2 separate regions of the Homo sapiens genome follow, and region 2 is linked to region 1. The links come from fine-mapping of genetic effects on gene expression. A gene starts in region 1. The other region holds a variant in brackets. All regions are shown on one strand. Distances are between the middles of the regions. Region 1 holds the start of WDR55 (WD repeat domain 55). Region 2 overlaps LOC105378198 (a long non-coding RNA gene).

Region 1 (8,336 bases):
CCATCCCCCGATTCTGTCCTGCAACAGGGTAACAAGAAGGGGCCCTTAGGCCGTTGGGACTTTGATACCCAGGAAGAATACAGCGAGTATATGAACAACAAAGAAGCTTTGCCCAAGTGAGTCGGTACTGAATATGGGCAGGGTGTGAGGAGGGGTGTGGGGATTTGGTGGAATAGTGCATATAAGGTTAGAGGGTGTGGTCTGGCTGAGATGTTCCCCACTAAGTTCTTTGCCCACAGGACTCTGGGAAAACCTCGCCACTGCTATGCAATCTCTGATGCATTCTTTCCCAACTGCTTTTTTCAGGGCTGCATTCCAGTATGGTATCAAAATGTCTGAAGGGCGGAAAACCAGGCGCTTCAAGGAAACCAATGACAAAGCAGAGCTTGATCGCCAGTGGAAGAAGATTAGTGCAGTAAGTAGGATGGCCCCTTGGGTGGGAGGGTTTCAGCTGGGAGAAGACATTAGCCTGCAGATTCAGGAACAGGCAAGGGGCTGGAGAGCCATGGAAATGAGAGGTCAGCCTTGGGCCTCAGGTGAGCTTAGATGGGCAGCTTGGTGATAGACTATCCTGTTGTTTTTGCAGATCATTGAGAAGAGGAAGAAGATGGAAGCTGATGGGTGAGCGGCATTATTCTTCCTCTGTGGGACTGGTGGGAATTGCTTAGTGTATTGATCTTATACTGACCCATTTCTCCTTCCATTGCAGGGTTGAAGTCAAAAGACCAAAATACTAATCACTAGTTACAACCAGAGATGCTCCACAAGGATATGCTCCCCACTGTTTTCTTTCTACAATTTCCAAAGGTTGCAAGATGTTTTTTTGTGGATGAATATAAAATTTTATTGTGTAATTACTTGGTTCCATTAAAATTGGTTAACTTGCTATTTTCTTTGTTGAGCATGTCCCCTCCAGTGCCCTTGAAGCACCAAGAACACTAATTCCACTGGTTGTGTAAAATCACATGCAGAAAGTCATCAGTCCTTTCCTGAGCTGTGGTTCTAGATTCCTAGACAGTAAGGATGCTCTCTAGCCAGTGTGCCCAGTAGAGAAGAGAATAATGATCCTCACTGATGGGCAAGAGGTGGATAGAGGAATGTAAGTATGATTGGTCTCAAATGTCAGACTCATTCCGGCCCATCTTCAGGCCTAGTCCCTGGGGAAAGATTTCCTGGGGATTGCTGTCAGCCTGATGGGCTGCTAATCTGATCTCCAGGCTATGAAGGACTGGGCTCTGGATGAAGGCATCTAATGAAAATCACTTATGGGTGGGAACCAAAACCTTTTATGAGTTTATGTACTATGAGCTTTATTAATGTTGAGTACAAATCACTGTCTCCTTGGCTAAAGGTGTAACCTTAGGGAAGTGCTTTGGGTTTAGAGCTGATATAGTGTGGCCCTGCAGGTACAGGAATTCCTATCCTAGACCAGAAGGGTTTGGTGCCCTTCATCACCCTGAAACATTTGCCAAGGCCCAGAATAGGTCTGTTGACCTTTGAATCACACCATTCCCTTCCCTTTTCTTCCCTTCTGCTCATTACCAGCACTTTGGCCTGGTGCTCATCATTAGGTGTCACTACTGCTTCCTGGCTGGATGCCACGCTGCCACTGTCTACCCTGAGCCCAAGATTTGTGGCCTCACCAGATCCAAGAAAGCTAGAAAGTCACCTTAGCCATTACCTTGTCTTTGATTATATTCACCTTGGTAGGACAGGTTTTTGTGAGGAAGCCAGTATTGTGCATGGCATGTAAGAGGCTGAAATTGGGCCTTGCTGCAATAGCACCTAGAATGGCTAATTTCAGACAAATGACACCATGGTTCTATGGATGTAGGTAGGCAGTCCCAATTATTAAAAATGGTCACAGAGACATGGCACAGGTGAAGACATCTGGAGAGTCACTAAAAGCAAGACCTGGAGATTGTGGGTTTGAAATTCAGTTTCTGAGGCCAGGCTCGATGGCTCATGCCCACAGTCTCAGTGCTTTGGGAGGCCAAAGCAGGAGAGTCTCTTGAGGCCAGGAGTTCATGAGTCTATAGCTATGCAGGAGGATCGAACCGAAGAGTTCAAGGCTGTAGTGAGCTATGATCACACCACTGCATTCTGAGCCTGGGTGACAGAGCAAGACCTTGATTTAAAAAAAGAAATTCAGGGGCTGGGCGCCGTGGCTCACGCCTATAATCCTAGCACTTTGGGAGGCTGAGGTGGGAAGACACGTCAAGAGTTCAAGGCCAGCCTGGGCAACATACTGAGTCCTCGTTTCTACAAAATATACAAAAATTGGCCAGGTGCGGTGGCTCACGCCTGTAGTCCCAGCACTTTGGGAGGCCAAGGCGGGCGGATCACGAGGTCAGGAGTTTGAGACCAGCCTGGCCAACATGGTGAAACCCTGTTTCTACTAAAGATACAAAAAATTAGCTGGGCGTGGTGGCATGCGCCTCTAGTCCCATCTACTCGGTAGGCTGAGGCAGGAAAATCTCTTGAACCCGGGAGACGGAGGTTGCAGTGAGCCGAGATCGCACCATTGCACTCCAGCCAGGGCGAGACTCCGTCTCAATAAATAAATAAAAATTAGCCAGGCGTGGTGCCGCGTGCCTGTAGTTCCAGCTACTCGGAGGATCGCTTGAGCCGAGCGGTGATCGTGCCACTGCACTCCAGCCTGCGCGACAGCGCAAGACCCTGTCTCAAAACAAAGCAAAACAAAAAAGAAAAAAAAATTCTTGGTAACTGAGCACTGCTTGTCCAGCCCATTGAGTTTCTGTAGACAAATTGTAGGAACTGGCACAGCAAACTGGCCACAAAGACGTTAGGGGCGTGGACACCAGCTGCTTGAGCTGCCTGCTGTCCCAGACTCCCGTATGTCATCGCGCAGCGTGGGATTTTGCGGCTTCCTGACAGCCCAGGCTGTCGCTTGACTTGATCTTGGGTTTCACCAAGCCACGAAGGACTAGCGTCCCTCTCTCCTATCCCAAGGGCATTAAGCCTGTCTGGATGAAGTAGGAGAGGAAAGATTTACACGCAGTTCTCAACTTTACGTGACGTGACTAGGGAGGGAATTGACGGTCGCACCGTCTACCTAGCCCAAACGGGGTCACAGCAGGACAAGGAAGTAGCCGATCTCCCAGATGCGGTCTCTTCGCTCCGCTCCACCCGCACCAGCAGCGGCCCACCCACCTCTCCTGTAAGAGGAAGAACGTCCCGGAGACACTTCCGGCCCCGCCCCCCGAGGCGGAAGCGGAGTGCCAGGCTACTCCTCCCGCAGTGTGGGTGGTTCCGAGGCTGACTACCCTGCGGCGGCGCGGCTCGCAGTCCTTCTCAGCATGGACCGCACTTGTGAGGAGAGGCCCGCTGAGGATGGGAGCGACGAGGAGGACCCAGACTCCATGGAAGCCCCAACCCGGATCCGGGACACTCCGGAAGACATCGTGCTGGAAGCTCCGGCTAGTGGGCTGGCGTTCCATCCGGCCCGTGACCTACTGGCTGCAGGGGACGTGGACGGGGACGTGTTCGTGTGAGAGCGGGGCAGGGCCGGGGCGCCGGGTCTGGAAGCTTCCCGGGGGTGGACCTGGGAACAGGAGAGATGAGAGAAAGTTGCAGGGAGACAAATTTTGCAAGATTCTTTGGGTCCAATTTATTCAGTAACATTCGGCTCTTCTATCACACCAATCTGTTGAAAGAACTGGAATGTCGTGACAGAGCCCAGATACCGTAGTAGGCCAAAAAGCCCTTTAAGGCCTTGTTATTTCCCACCGATTATTATTTATTTACTTACCTATTTATTTTTGAGACGGAGTCTCGCTCTGTCGCCGAGGCTGGAGTGCAGTGGCGCGATCTGGGCTCACTGCAACCTCCCCCTTCCGGGTTCAAGCAGTTCTCTTCCTCAGCCTCCCGAGTAGCTGGGATTATAAGCGCCCGCCACCACGCCCGGCTAATTTTTTTTGTATTTGTAGTAGAGACGGGGTTTCACCATCTTGGCCAGGCTGGTCTTGAACTCCTGACCTCGTGATCCACCTGCCTTCCTCCCAGAGTGCTGGGATTACAGGCGTAAACCACCGTGCCCGGACTCCTACCGGATTATTATATTGTGCCCGAGACAGGCTCAGCAGGCCCCTTTAAGTGATTTTTCAAACCACAAATCTTGGCTCACGCCTGTAATACCCGCACTTTGGGAGGCCGAGGTGGGCGGGTCACCTGAGGTTGGAGCTCGAGACCAGCCTGTTCAACATGGTGAAACCCCGTCTCTACTAAAAATACAAAAATTAGCCCGGTGTGGTGGCGCGGGCCTGTAATCCCAGCTACACGGGAGGCTGAGGCAGAAGAATCACTTGGATTCGGGCGGTGGAGGTTGCAGTGAGCCAAGATCGTGCCACTGCACTCCAGCTTGGACAATAGAGTGAGACACTCCCTTGATTAAAACCCTTCAATGGTCTGCTTTTAGGATTTAGTACAAATTTCTCAATCCTGCCTTCAACGCCCTGACCATCTGTGCTCATTCATCCATACCTTTTAAAAATACGTCTTGGGCCGGGCGTGGTGGCTCATGCCTGTAATCCCAGCACTTTGGGAGACCAAGGTGGGGTATCACCTGAGGTCAGGAGTTGGAGACCAGCCTGGCCAACATGGTGAAATCCTGTCTCTACTAAAAATAGAAAAATTAGCTGGGTGTGGTGGCGGGCACCTGTAATCCCAGCTTCTCGGGAGGCTGAGGCAGGAGAATCGCTTGAACCTGGGAGGTGGAGGTGGCAGTGAGCCGAGATCGTGCCATTGCACTCCAGCCTGGGCAACAAGAGCAAAACTCCATCTCAAAAAAAAATCTCGAAACCTCAGCCCATTTGCATGTGCTATTCTGTCCGGAAAACTCCTTTCCCCTCACTTTTACCTACTATCTCTGAGTTTCCAGGATCTCTTCCCTCTTCCTCTCTCCCCAGACTAAAATTGGTTACCTGTTAGATGCTGCCATGGCACCAGGTGCCATGGTACCTTTCCCTTAATAATGAATGGTTGGTAACCATATGTCCATTTGTGTAATTATTTGAATGCTGTCTCCTTCACTAATGTTTTTCAAACGTCTTTGACCTTGCCTCACAGAGAAATACCTTTTACATTATATATGATGCTCTGTGATACAATTGCTGATTTTATTCTATTATTGTGTACATGTACACAAAATGCTGATCGTAGCTTACTAGTCCGTTATATGACTAGAATGTGAAAAAACACTGTTCTGGAGTGTAATCTGTCATCGGTTTTGTTCTCTATTTTATCTCCAACCTCTAGTCTAGGGTAGATGCTCAACACATGTTTGATTTTGAACAAAAGATACAGGTTAGAGGCAGTGGAAAAGTTGAAGATGTTATGCTTATCAGATTTACTTAATGAATTTAAACCTCAACCCCTCATTAGCTGTAATGGCCTTGAGCGTGTTAACTTCTGTATTTTCATCTTTGAAAGGGGGAATTATACCTACCCTTGCAGAGGGGACAAGTTTGCAGTACAGCACCTAAGCAGCTCTTCAACAAATGTAGGTTCCCTTCTACTACTATCCATATTTATGGTGCCAGGCACTTGGGAGTTGCCCTAGACATCCACCTTTCTTCACATTCCACACAACTTTGTTGCTTCCCTTGTCTTAAAAAAGGTTCTGGAGGAAAATTCTTGGTTCTCCCCTTCCCCACCCTCAGCCATGACTATTGTGAAAAGGTTCCTTTTCCGAGGATTAAATTCAAACTTCTGCTTGGCTCATGTGGTCTCATGCCCACCCCAGCCCATCTTTCTAGATTCAGTCATGCTACTCTCCTGCTACAAGGAACCCTCCTCATTCCTTATCTCTGCTGCCTCCAGTATCTGGCCCTTGCTCTCTGCCAGGCAAATTCTACTCTTGTATGATCCAACCCACATGTCACCACCTTAGCTTTCCAGGGCTCTCTTCTCCCTTCCCAAGTATTCATTCAATTTGTGAATGTTTATTAAGCTACTTTTTCACGTTCAGCACTGGGATAGAGAAAATGAGCAGGCTCAGTTCTGCCTACCTGGAACTCACTGGCAATTAAGCATGTATTCATTCTGCCCTTTTTGAGGATCTGCTCTGAGGCAGGCACTTGGGGGTATTCCATAAACAGTACTCACCTCAAAGTTGTTTACAGGCTGGTGCCTCTCCCCCACCTCCATTTTGATCTTGCCTCTTTTTCAGCACGTACTCTCAATGTACTGTAATTAATTGTGGCTTTCTCTAGCTCCTGCAGACCTGAAGTGCAAGAGCCTGCTCTACCTTACTGATTTTTAGATTTCTAACTTCTGGGGCTGGTCTTTTGTCATTGATGTAACAAATATCTCCTCCACAGTGGTCCAGACCCAATCTTTGTCCAGGCTGGGGCTTTCAAAGATGATAAAGAGGGGTTGGGTGGGATCACAAAGAAATCTTGCGCAAATATACCTTGAACTAACATATATTGAAAAAAGCAGGACCTAACATTTCAAACTCACTGAAAATGGAGAAATGAGATGGTAAACTTTTTGGGCTTAGAGGTGTAGAAGCAGGAACTCTTAGGTAGGTGGGAAGGCTGCTCTGTCTAGTTGGTCTCTGCACTCAATGCAACCCAGGCTGGGTCTGGAGTCATTTACCCTCCTTGCCCTCTCCCCAGCTTTTCCTACTCTTGCCAAGAGGGAGAAACCAAGGAGCTCTGGTCATCAGGTCACCATCTCAAGGCCTGCCGAGCTGTGGCCTTCTCTGAAGATGGGCAGAGTGAGTACTGGGGAAGACAACCAGCAATGTGGTGGAAGGGAGCAGTGAGCAGCACCATGACCTGGGCACCTTTTCCCCAGAGCTCATTACTGTCTCCAAGGACAAAGCCATCCATGTTCTAGATGTGGAGCAGGGCCAACTGGAAAGACGTGTTTCCAAGGCTCATGGGTAAGGAGAGCAGCCAATTCTGTGTATGTGCATGGAGGTGAAGGGTAAGGACCAGGAGGTCCCCACTGGGACAGAGATGCTCCAAGAAGTTCTACATCTGTGTCTCTAGTGCCCCCATCAATAGTCTTCTGCTGGTGGATGAGAATGTTCTGGCCACTGGGGATGACACAGGTGGTATCTGTCTCTGGGACCAGCGGAAGGAGGGCCCCTTAATGGATATGAGGCAACATGAAGAGTACATCGCAGACATGGCTCTGGATCCAGCCAAAAAGCTGCTGCTGACAGCCAGGTACAACTTCAAAGCTGCCTTGCCTCCCCTCCCCTCCCTGTGTGAAATGTCTTCCTCAAATAGACCTTGCGTCTAAGCCTACTGCTCTACTCTCTACAGCGGGGATGGCTGCCTTGGCATCTTCAACATTAAGAGGCGTCGGTTTGAGCTGCTCTCAGAACCTCAGTCTGGGGACCTGACCTCTGTCACTCTCATGAAAGTACAGCTGGTTATGGTGGGATGGAGGGGTGTGTGCTGGGGGCTTAGTCTGAGGCAGCTTCCACATTGTTTTCTCTATTTCCCTGCAGTGGGGGAAGAAGGTAGCCTGTGGCTCCAGTGAAGGTACCATCTACCTCTTCAATTGGAATGGCTTTGGGGCCACAAGTGACCGCTTTGCCCTGAGAGCTGAATCTATCGACTGCATGGTTCCAGTCACCGAGAGTCTGCTGTGTACTGGCTCCACTGATGGAGTCATCAGGTGAGGGAAGCCTGGACAGCCCTTAGGTCACAGGAAGGGCAGACCCAGCTAGCCAGTACTCAACACTGTTCTTTCCCTGCCCAGGGCTGTGAACATCCTACCGAACCGAGTGGTGGGCAGTGTGGGCCAGCACACTGGGGAGCCTGTGGAGGAGCTGGCCCTCTCCCACTGTGGCCGCTTCCTGGCCAGTAGTGGCCATGACCAGCGCCTCAAGTTTTGGGACATGGCCCAGCTGCGAGCTGTGGTGGTGGATGACTACCGTCGGCGCAAAAAAAAGGGAGGACCACTGCGGGCTCTGAGCAGCAAGACTTGGAGCACCGATGACTTCTTCGCAGGACTGAGGGAAGAGGGAGAAGACTCCATGGCTCAGGAAGAAAAGGAGGAGACTGGGGATGACAGTGACTGAAGGAATGAATTGAATCTTGAGACGGGTCCTCACCAGGCAAGAGTCTTGCTTATTGGGCTGCATCCCCAGAGAGGATATGAATTATTTTTTGAAAAGACAGGGTTTTGCCATCGTCCAGGCTGGAGTGCGCTGGCTTGATCTTGGCTCACTGCAGCCTCAATGTCCCCAGGCTCAGATTGTCCTTCCACCTTAGCCTCTGGAGCAGCTGGGACTACAGGTGTGCACTACCACACCAGGCCAATTTTTGTTTTTTTTTTTTGGTAGAAACGGGTCT
Region 2 (8,336 bases), 67 kb after region 1:
CATATGAACCATTTTAAAATGTTCAGCTCAGTGGTGGTAGGTACATTCACACCGTTTTGCAACCATCACCACTATCCATCTCCAGAACTCTTCATCTTTCAAAACTGAAACTCTATACCCATTAACTAATAACTCTCCACCTCCCTCTATCCCTAATCCCTGGCAACTGCCATTCTGCTTTCCGTCTCTATAAATTTGACTACTCTAGGTATCTCATAGAAGTGGAATCATACAGTAGTTGTCTTTTTGTGACTCGTTTATTTCACTTAGCACTATGTTTTATTTTGTTTTGTTTTGTTTTGTTTTGAGATGGAGTCTGGCTCAGTCACCCAGGCTGGAGTGCAGTGGCACAATCTCGGCTTACTGCAACCTCCACCTCCTGGGTTCAAGCGATTCTCCTGCCTGAGCCTCCCAAGTAGCTGGGACTTCAGCCTCCTGCCACCATGTCCTGCTAATTTTTTGTAACTTTACTAGAGACTGGGTTTCACTCTGTTAGCCAGGATGGTGTCGATCTCCTGACCCCATGATTCTCCTGGGATTACAGGCATGAGCCACCGCACCCAGCCAGCACAATGTTCTTAAGGTTCATCCACGTTGTATCATGTACTACAATTTCATTCCTTTTGAAAAAGGATAAATAATATTTTATTGTATGTGAATACTACAATGGAATACTATTAAAATGGAATGTTTTGTTTAGTCATTGTCCATCAATGGACATTTGGGTTGTTTTGACCTCTTGCCTATTATGAACAATGCTGCTATGAACATGAGTGTACAAATATCTGTTTGTGTTTCTGCTTTCAATTCCTTTGGGTATATACCCAGAAGTGGAATTGCTGGGTTATATGGTAATTGTACTTTTAATTATTTAAGTGACTGCTGTACTGTTTTCCATAGCAGCTGTATCACTTTACATTCCCACCAATAGTGCAGAAATGCTTCAATTTCTCCATGTCTTCACTAACACTTATTCTCTCTCTCTCTGTGTGTGTGTGTGTGTGTGTGTGTGTGATTGATAGCAGCTATCCTGAAGGGTGTGAGGTTGTATCTCCTGTGGCAGCTCATTTGATTTTAATCTTTCTTAATCATTAGTGTATTTAAAACTGCAAGTTTACCTTTAAGTACTGCTTTAGTTGTAGTACACAAATTCTTCATGTAGTGTTTCATTCACTTCTAAGTATTTTTTAAGCAGAATCTTATTTAGTAATATGTTATTTAGTTTCCAAACACATGGGATTTTATTTTAGCTATTGTTTTTACAAATGTTAATTCCAGGATGCATTGTAATAGGAGAACATTGTCTGAATGGGATCAGATCTGTGGAATTTATAGCCTAACACATGGTCTATTGTTGTAAGTGTTATATATATATTCAAAAATAATGCCTGTTTATTTTGGGTCTACATATTTTTAAAATTGTTTTTCTTTTCAGCTCATTCATATCCATACTATTTTCAGGTCTATGTGATCTACAGTCCTTAGAGATGCATATTAAAACATTTCCAACTACAATTGGTGATTTATGTATTTTTTCCTATTTGATGTAGTTCAAGACTGTATTGTAGATGCATGTATGCTTATGATGACTGTATCAATTTTCTACTGTTCACTAATTAAACATTTTTAAACTGTGAGATATAACATACATGCAGAAAATTCATGAGGTAAATACATAGATTTAAATAAATGCTTATAAAATGAATCCATATAATCACTACTAAGGTAAGAAAACATTGCCAACATCCCAGAAACCCTCTCTCTCTTTTGATTTTTACAATCCCTTCACTTTCTTTTGGAATTAACCATTCACCTGATTGTTTATCTTATTTATTTTTATTGTATTTAGAGAAGATGGTCTTGCTATGTTGCCCAGGCTGCAGTATAGTAGCCATTCACAGGTATAATCATAGTGGCAACAGCCTTGAATTCCTGGGCTCAAGTGATCCTTTTGCTTCAACCTCTCCAGTGCTGAGACTGTAGGCATGCACCATTGTGCCCAGCCCTGTTTACCTGATTTTTATTTATTTATTAATATTTCTATTACTATTATTATTATTTTTGAGACAGAGTCTTGCTCTTTCACCCAGGCAAGAGTGCAGTGGGGGTATCTCAGCTCACTGCAAGCTCTGCCTCCTGGGCTCAAGTGATTCTCCTCTCTCAGCCTCCTGAGTAGCTAGGATTACAGGCATGTGCCACCATGCCCAGCTAATTTTTGTGTTTTTAGTAGAGACAGCGTTTCAATATTTTGGCCAGGCTTGTCTCGAACTCCTGACCTCAAGTGATCCGCCCACCTCGGCTTCCCAAAGTGCTGGAATTACAGGCGTGAGCCACTGTGCCCGCCCCCTCCATTTACCTGATTTTTATAATAATAATTTTCTCACTCTTCTTTATATCTTTACCACTTATGTATGAATGCCTGGGTGCTATAATTTAGTTTTCCTATTTTGATTACTTTCATAAATATAGTTATATTGAAGTGTTTGTTTTGTTTTGCTTCTTTTGTTCAATAATACATTTGTAAGATTTATCCATTTTGTTTATGTTGTGGGTTACTATTCCATTTAATGAATATAAGATGATTTACTTATTCATTTTAATATTGATGGATATTTGTAGCATTTCTAGTTTTGGTTCATTGTTCATAATAACTGAAACCCAGAAAAAACAGATATTCCCATCTTATACATATGTCCTGCGGCACTTCAGCATATATTTCTCCAGGGTACATACCTAGGAGTCAAACTGCTAAGTATTTAGTGGATTCATGTCTTCAGTTCTATAGTTTTGCCCAGTGGTTTTCCAAAGTATTTCTACCAGCTTACACATCTACCAGCAGTGTATCATGTCCCCAATATTTGGCATTGTACAACTTTAAAAATTTTTGTCAATTTTATGGCTGTAATTTGGTACCTCATTGTATTTTCATGAAAAAAGACAAAATCTTCATTTTAAGTATATAGAATAAATTCACATAATGTATTTTCTTTTTCTTTTTCTTTTTTTTTTTTTTTGGGACGGAGTCTTGCTCTGTCGCCCAGGCTGGAGTGCAGTGGCGCGATCTCGGCTCACTTCAAGCTCTGCCTCCCGGGTTCAAGCCATTCTCCTGCCTCAGCCTCCCCAGCAGCTGGGACTACAGGTGCACACCGCCACGCCCGGCTAATTTTTGTATTTTTAGTAGAGACGGGGTTTCACCGTGTTAGCCAGGATGGTCTTGATCTCCTGACCTCGTGATCTGCCCACCTCGGCCTCCCAAAGTGCTGGGATTAAAGGCGTGAGCCACTGTACCCGGCCCACGTAATGTATTTTCTTATTTAACCTTGAATGCTGAATAGTGTGCGTCTTTTTTTAAAAATACATCTTTAGATAAAATAGTATATTTTCAAAAAAGTACCCAAATCATAAATTTACAGCTCTATGAATTAATACAAAGTAAAGAAAACCATGAAATCACCACATGTCTATAAATAGGACTGTTCCATAAAGCCCTTCTAGAGCCTCCTGTAGTCACTTCTCTCACACTTGTCCTCAGAAGAAAGCCTTGAGGTGATTTCTAATATTACGATTGTTTTGTTTTTTCAACTTTGTATTAATGGAATAATACGTGACTGATTTTCTCATTCCTCCTTATGTTCCCATCCAGGTACTAACCAGGCCTGACCCTACTTAGCTTCCAAGATCAGAGGAGACCGGGCACGTTCAAGATGGTATGGCCAAAGACCCTCATTATGTTTCTAGATTCATCTATTTTGTTGTGCGTAGCAGTTGCTTATTTGCATTGCTGTATGGAAAGTAAGTCAAAAGACTTAATACTTTTGAAAGTAGAAATACTTTCGAAAGCAATTTGGGCTCCTCAATATAGTATAGGTTATGAGAGCTACAACAGTGCTTAGCAAGAGGTTTGGAACATAGAAAGTGTTTATTATACTTCTTTTTTTTTTTTTTTTTTTTTGAGACGGAGTTTTGCTGTTGTTGCCCAGG[C/T]TGGAGTGCAGTGGCAGGATCTCGGCTCACTGCAACCTCTGCCTCCTGGGTTCAAGTGATTCTCCTGCCTCAGCCTCCTGAGTGAGTAGCTGGGATTACAGGTGCGTGCCACCACGCTCAGCTAATTTTTTGTATTTTTAGTAGAGACGGGATTTCATCATGTTAGCCAGGCTGGTCTCGAACTCTGACCTCAGGTGATCCATCCACCTTGGCCTCCCAAAATGCAGGGATTACAGGCGTGAGCCACTGCGCTTGGTCTATACTTCTTATATTTGCAGGCAAATACCTTTTTACATTTGACAAATTGCCTTTTTATTTTTGCTTGAGTTTCCCTAAATAAAACTTCCTTGTTGTACTTATGCATGGTTCTATAATGGTGAATCAAGCCATTTACATTGGTGAATGAGAAATTGCATATTTCATGAATGCATGGAATAGTTTATGGTATTTATTCAAAATATTACACATACTTCTGCTTCCAGGAAGGTGGAGTAAATGTAATATTCCCCATTCATCCTGCTAAAACCCCAAAGCATTGTACATAAAACAAATGTAATACAATGAAAGGCAGACAAAAGGCAGACCAGCTAGGGATCTCAAGACTCAAGGTACAACACAGTCGTAAGTTTTTTTTTCCTTTTGTATTCCAGACTTGGAACTGAAGAAGCTGGCAATCTGGAAATGCCAATGGACGCAGATTTTAAAAGCCCCAGCAAAAGTCTGCTTTCTCTATTCATAGGACCAGGATCAGGAAGAGGACAGCTTAGAAAGACATAAAATTCTTAGACAATAACTGTTCTACCCCAGCCAAACACCAAACACACACACACACACACACACACACACACTCCAACAACTATGGCCCCACCCACTTCAGCAAAGGCTGAGTAGGAGCCTAAACTTCCACCACTGAGCGGCTATAAGAAGTTACCCCAAGACCCCACCAACGTGGTGTTAAAGAAGGCCAAATAGGGGACAAAATTTTTATCCATGCTGACCAGTTATGAGGTTCCCTTTTTCCCTCTGTGAAATAAAAATAAAGCCCGTAGGTCCCCAGGCAAGATGAAATGGACTCCTTGTTGCAAAAGAGACCCCAGAAAACTTTAAAAGCTGGATTCTATGGCTTTGGCAAGGTAAGAGTTCGGTCACACCTCAAAACTCCCCTACCTCATTAACTGCTTCAAGACTTTCTTTCCTACAGTTAAACGCCTGGGACTACAGTCATGTGCCACCATCCTAGGCTAATTTTTTTTTAAAGGTTTTTGTAGAGATGAGGTCTCAGTATATTGCCCAGGCTGGTCTCAAACTCTTGGGCTTAAGCAATTCTCCATCTCGGCCTCCCAGAGTGCTGGAATTACAGGCGTGAGCCACTGCACCAAGTCAGAAAACTGAGTTTTAAGAAGATTAATATTTTTATGTTTATGTAGCTTTCTGTATTACTTTTAAAGTCTTTTGATTGTCACTTCGGTTAAATGAATATTATTTTACAATGACCCGTGATCCTGTTTTGATCAAATATTTTGGGCCTTTTAACATCTTTGACAAACATCCTCAAAATCAATCCTAAATTAAGTCTTTTTACTTAGAATTAACTTTAAGATTTTCTAATTGGGCCCCTAAAAAGCTTCAACAGATATATCTCTCATTTTATAGAGATATTTTAAATGATTAGGCTTATTTGGTAAATTATATAAAAACATTGTCAAATAATAAGCAATACTAGATCTTCTTTTAATTACACTATGATATGTTGTTGATATAAATGGTTCAAAATTTATATAAATTCAGAAAGATCTAATGTGTTATCAGTCATAATTTTGGTTGTTATCTTAAAATACTACATATAATGTAAATAACTAAATGTTCTTGTCAATTGAGAACTTTCATTAGATTTTAACCATAGCCATTCTAAGTTTTTGTCATCTACAGTTACTGTTTTTAATTCTTCTCTAAAAACATTTGCAATAAGCTATAATCCAAATTGCTTTCTATCGAAAAGACTTTAACATATTTGAATACCAATTTCTCACTTGGAATAACGAAGTTCTTCCCTCCGCGGAAGACTGGACCTCAACACCAGTATCTGACACCAGACTTAGACTAGGGTTCCACCTCATGGCTGAGAAGAAGATGACAGCTGAGGTGGACTGCCTGTCCAAGATGCTGGACCAGGGCTGTATTTTAACTCGCCCACTTTTGACTTAAGACAAATTACCATTGCCATTGCCTCAAGTACCTGCGTTATTGACTGATTACCCTGACGTTGGGAATATTATGTATTCTGGAGATCCTATGTTGTGCTACAATGCTTACCCTTGTATTCCATTTTTAGATACTTCTAAAATTTCTCATCCACCTCCAAGTCCAAAATCCCTTTCCCAGAGCCTATAATCCTCACTTTAGAAAACATAGTTACCATGCTCCTTGTTAATCAAATACTCCATTACCTTAAAGAATACCCCCAGACTCTAGATAGTGACCCTCAGCAATTTGTATGGAATTTATGATTTCTCTCTTGGTTTAATTTTTTTATAACTAAAATGGACTCCTCTGTTTCACTCCTCACAATTTTAGTTTTATTGACCACTTCTGTTACCAAACCCACACCTTAACCCTTACCCTTTTGAGTAAAAGGTAATTTTACTATTCTTTTGAAAAGGTTTTTGTAGAGATTAGGTCTCAGTATATTGCCCAGGCTGGTCTCAAACTCTTGGGCTCAAGCAATTCTCCCACCTCAGCCTCCCAAAGTGCTGGAATTACAGGTATGAGCCACTGCACCAAACCAGAAAACTGAGTTTTAAAAAGATTAAGATTTTTATGTCTATGTAGCTTTCTCCTTAGATTCTGGGACTCCCACCCTTGCTACTGTACATAACCACTGAATGCCCAAAGAAAAAATATCAAACACTGACAACAGCTCCTCTTTGTTAGATATCATGCCTCTGCAGGCTTCTAGAAGGCTTGCAACAAAACCAGTTCGTGGTTCACTCACATAATAGATATCTTGTTCATAAATGAACGTATAAATTGGCATACCCTTGGAGGTATAACTTGTGCCCCTTGAGGACACACTTTCCTATATAGAATTGAGTCAGATCCCCCAGTTCAAGAAGAGGCACACAGATGCATAAACAGCTGGCAAGTTGAAGGACTTTGCCTTCTAGGTCATTACGTTGCCCTCTTTTCCATCCATCTCAATCATAAAGAAAATCTTGCTTTCCGGTAAGCTAAAAGAGAGCTACCAAGTGGATATCAGGATATGTGGTAGCATAGTTTTTGGGGTGTAATTTTTCTCAGCTACGGAGTATACACTAACAGAGATACGATAAAAAAAAATGCCGGCCACCATAGGACAAATTGCTGAAAATGCTGCAATAAGTATTATGACACAGTAGAAGTCCTTAAATTCTCTCGCTCAAGTGGTTTTAGACAATCAAATTGCACCAGGTTTTCTCATTGCTAAACAAGGGGGAATTTGCATGATAGCCCACACCACTTGTTGCACTTATATCAACATTATAGGAGATTTAACAACCCATGTAGGTAAGATCACCCAACAGGCTGCCTGGTTACAGGAGGTACAAACCACAGATCCCCTTAATAACGTTTTTAGCTGACTCATTGCAGTATTAGAAATTACTTCCAATCCATCTTACAAACCCTTGTCATTATCATATCACTATCTTGTTCCTATTTTTGATAGTCAAAGTACTTATAAGATCTATAACCAACTACTTCAAGTCTGTCACTAAAACCAAAGTTATGGTAGCACAATGCATAGAAATGACAGACAACATAAACATAAACTTACCTTCTCAACTTTTCTGTTGTTACTGTTTTTCTAGTCTCAAAGGTTCAAAGGGTCTTAATAGCTGTCTGCCTCCTTCTTGCCTGGCCTAAAATATTCAACTGGTTGTAAGTCTCCTAGCCACATGAGTCCCACTGACAGACTAGATAGACCTGGGGCAGGTATCCACACCATCCTGGGAACGACATGGGACATGTTAGAAAATTTAGCCATCAATGCTGCCTATGGCAGATTTCAGCCTAAAGCTGGAAAGTGTGAAATAAAACTAAAGTCCCTAAGCCCCTAGGTGAAACAGAATGGACTTCTTGTTGCAAAAGAGACCCCAGAAACTTTGAAAACTGCATTCTATGGCTTTGGCAAGGCAAGAGGTCAGTCACACCTCAACACTCCCCTACCTTGTTAACTGCCTCAAAACTTTCCTTCCTACAATTAAACAGAAACGAGTTCCTAAAAAACTGTCTGGAAGATTTCTCCCTCAACCTCAAGAGACCTCTTGATGTCATGGCTGACCTCCCCTCTTTTATCGTGGTTTCACCATGACTACTGA

The links. PIP is the estimated chance that this variant, and not a neighbour inherited with it, causes the effect.
Region 2: its variant is fine-mapped to the expression of WDR55 in testis (GTEx, PIP 0.95).

Annotation. Positions count from the first base shown.
Region 1 is chr5:140,661,593-140,669,928 of GRCh38, forward strand. It overlaps WDR55 (WD repeat domain 55), which reads left to right and starts at 3,312. Exons shown (of 7, transcript NM_017706.5): 1 at 3,312-3,511; 2 at 6,642-6,742; 3 at 6,823-6,910; 4 at 7,020-7,199; 5 at 7,299-7,398; 6 at 7,487-7,656; 7 at 7,741-8,336. The coding sequence starts at 3,321. The coding sequence ends at 8,062. IK (IK cytokine) reads left to right here. Exons shown (of 20, transcript NM_006083.4): 17 at 28-116; 18 at 307-415; 19 at 587-621; 20 at 710-888. The coding sequence ends at 737. It overlaps LOC124901088 (a long non-coding RNA gene), which reads right to left and starts at 3,845. Exons shown (of 2, transcript XR_007058968.1): 1 at 3,773-3,845; 2 at 819-3,565. RefSeq lists enhancers at 2,723-3,389, 2,807-2,966, 3,317-3,446.
Region 2 is chr5:140,728,454-140,736,789 of GRCh38, forward strand. LOC105378198 (a long non-coding RNA gene) reads left to right here. Exons shown (of 4, transcript XR_001742904.2): 2 at 3,644-3,707; 3 at 4,632-5,114. Among named protein-coding and RNA genes, the nearest start is that of ZMAT2, 32 kb to the left of the region's middle. The variant C/T (reference allele first, on the strand shown) is at 3,982.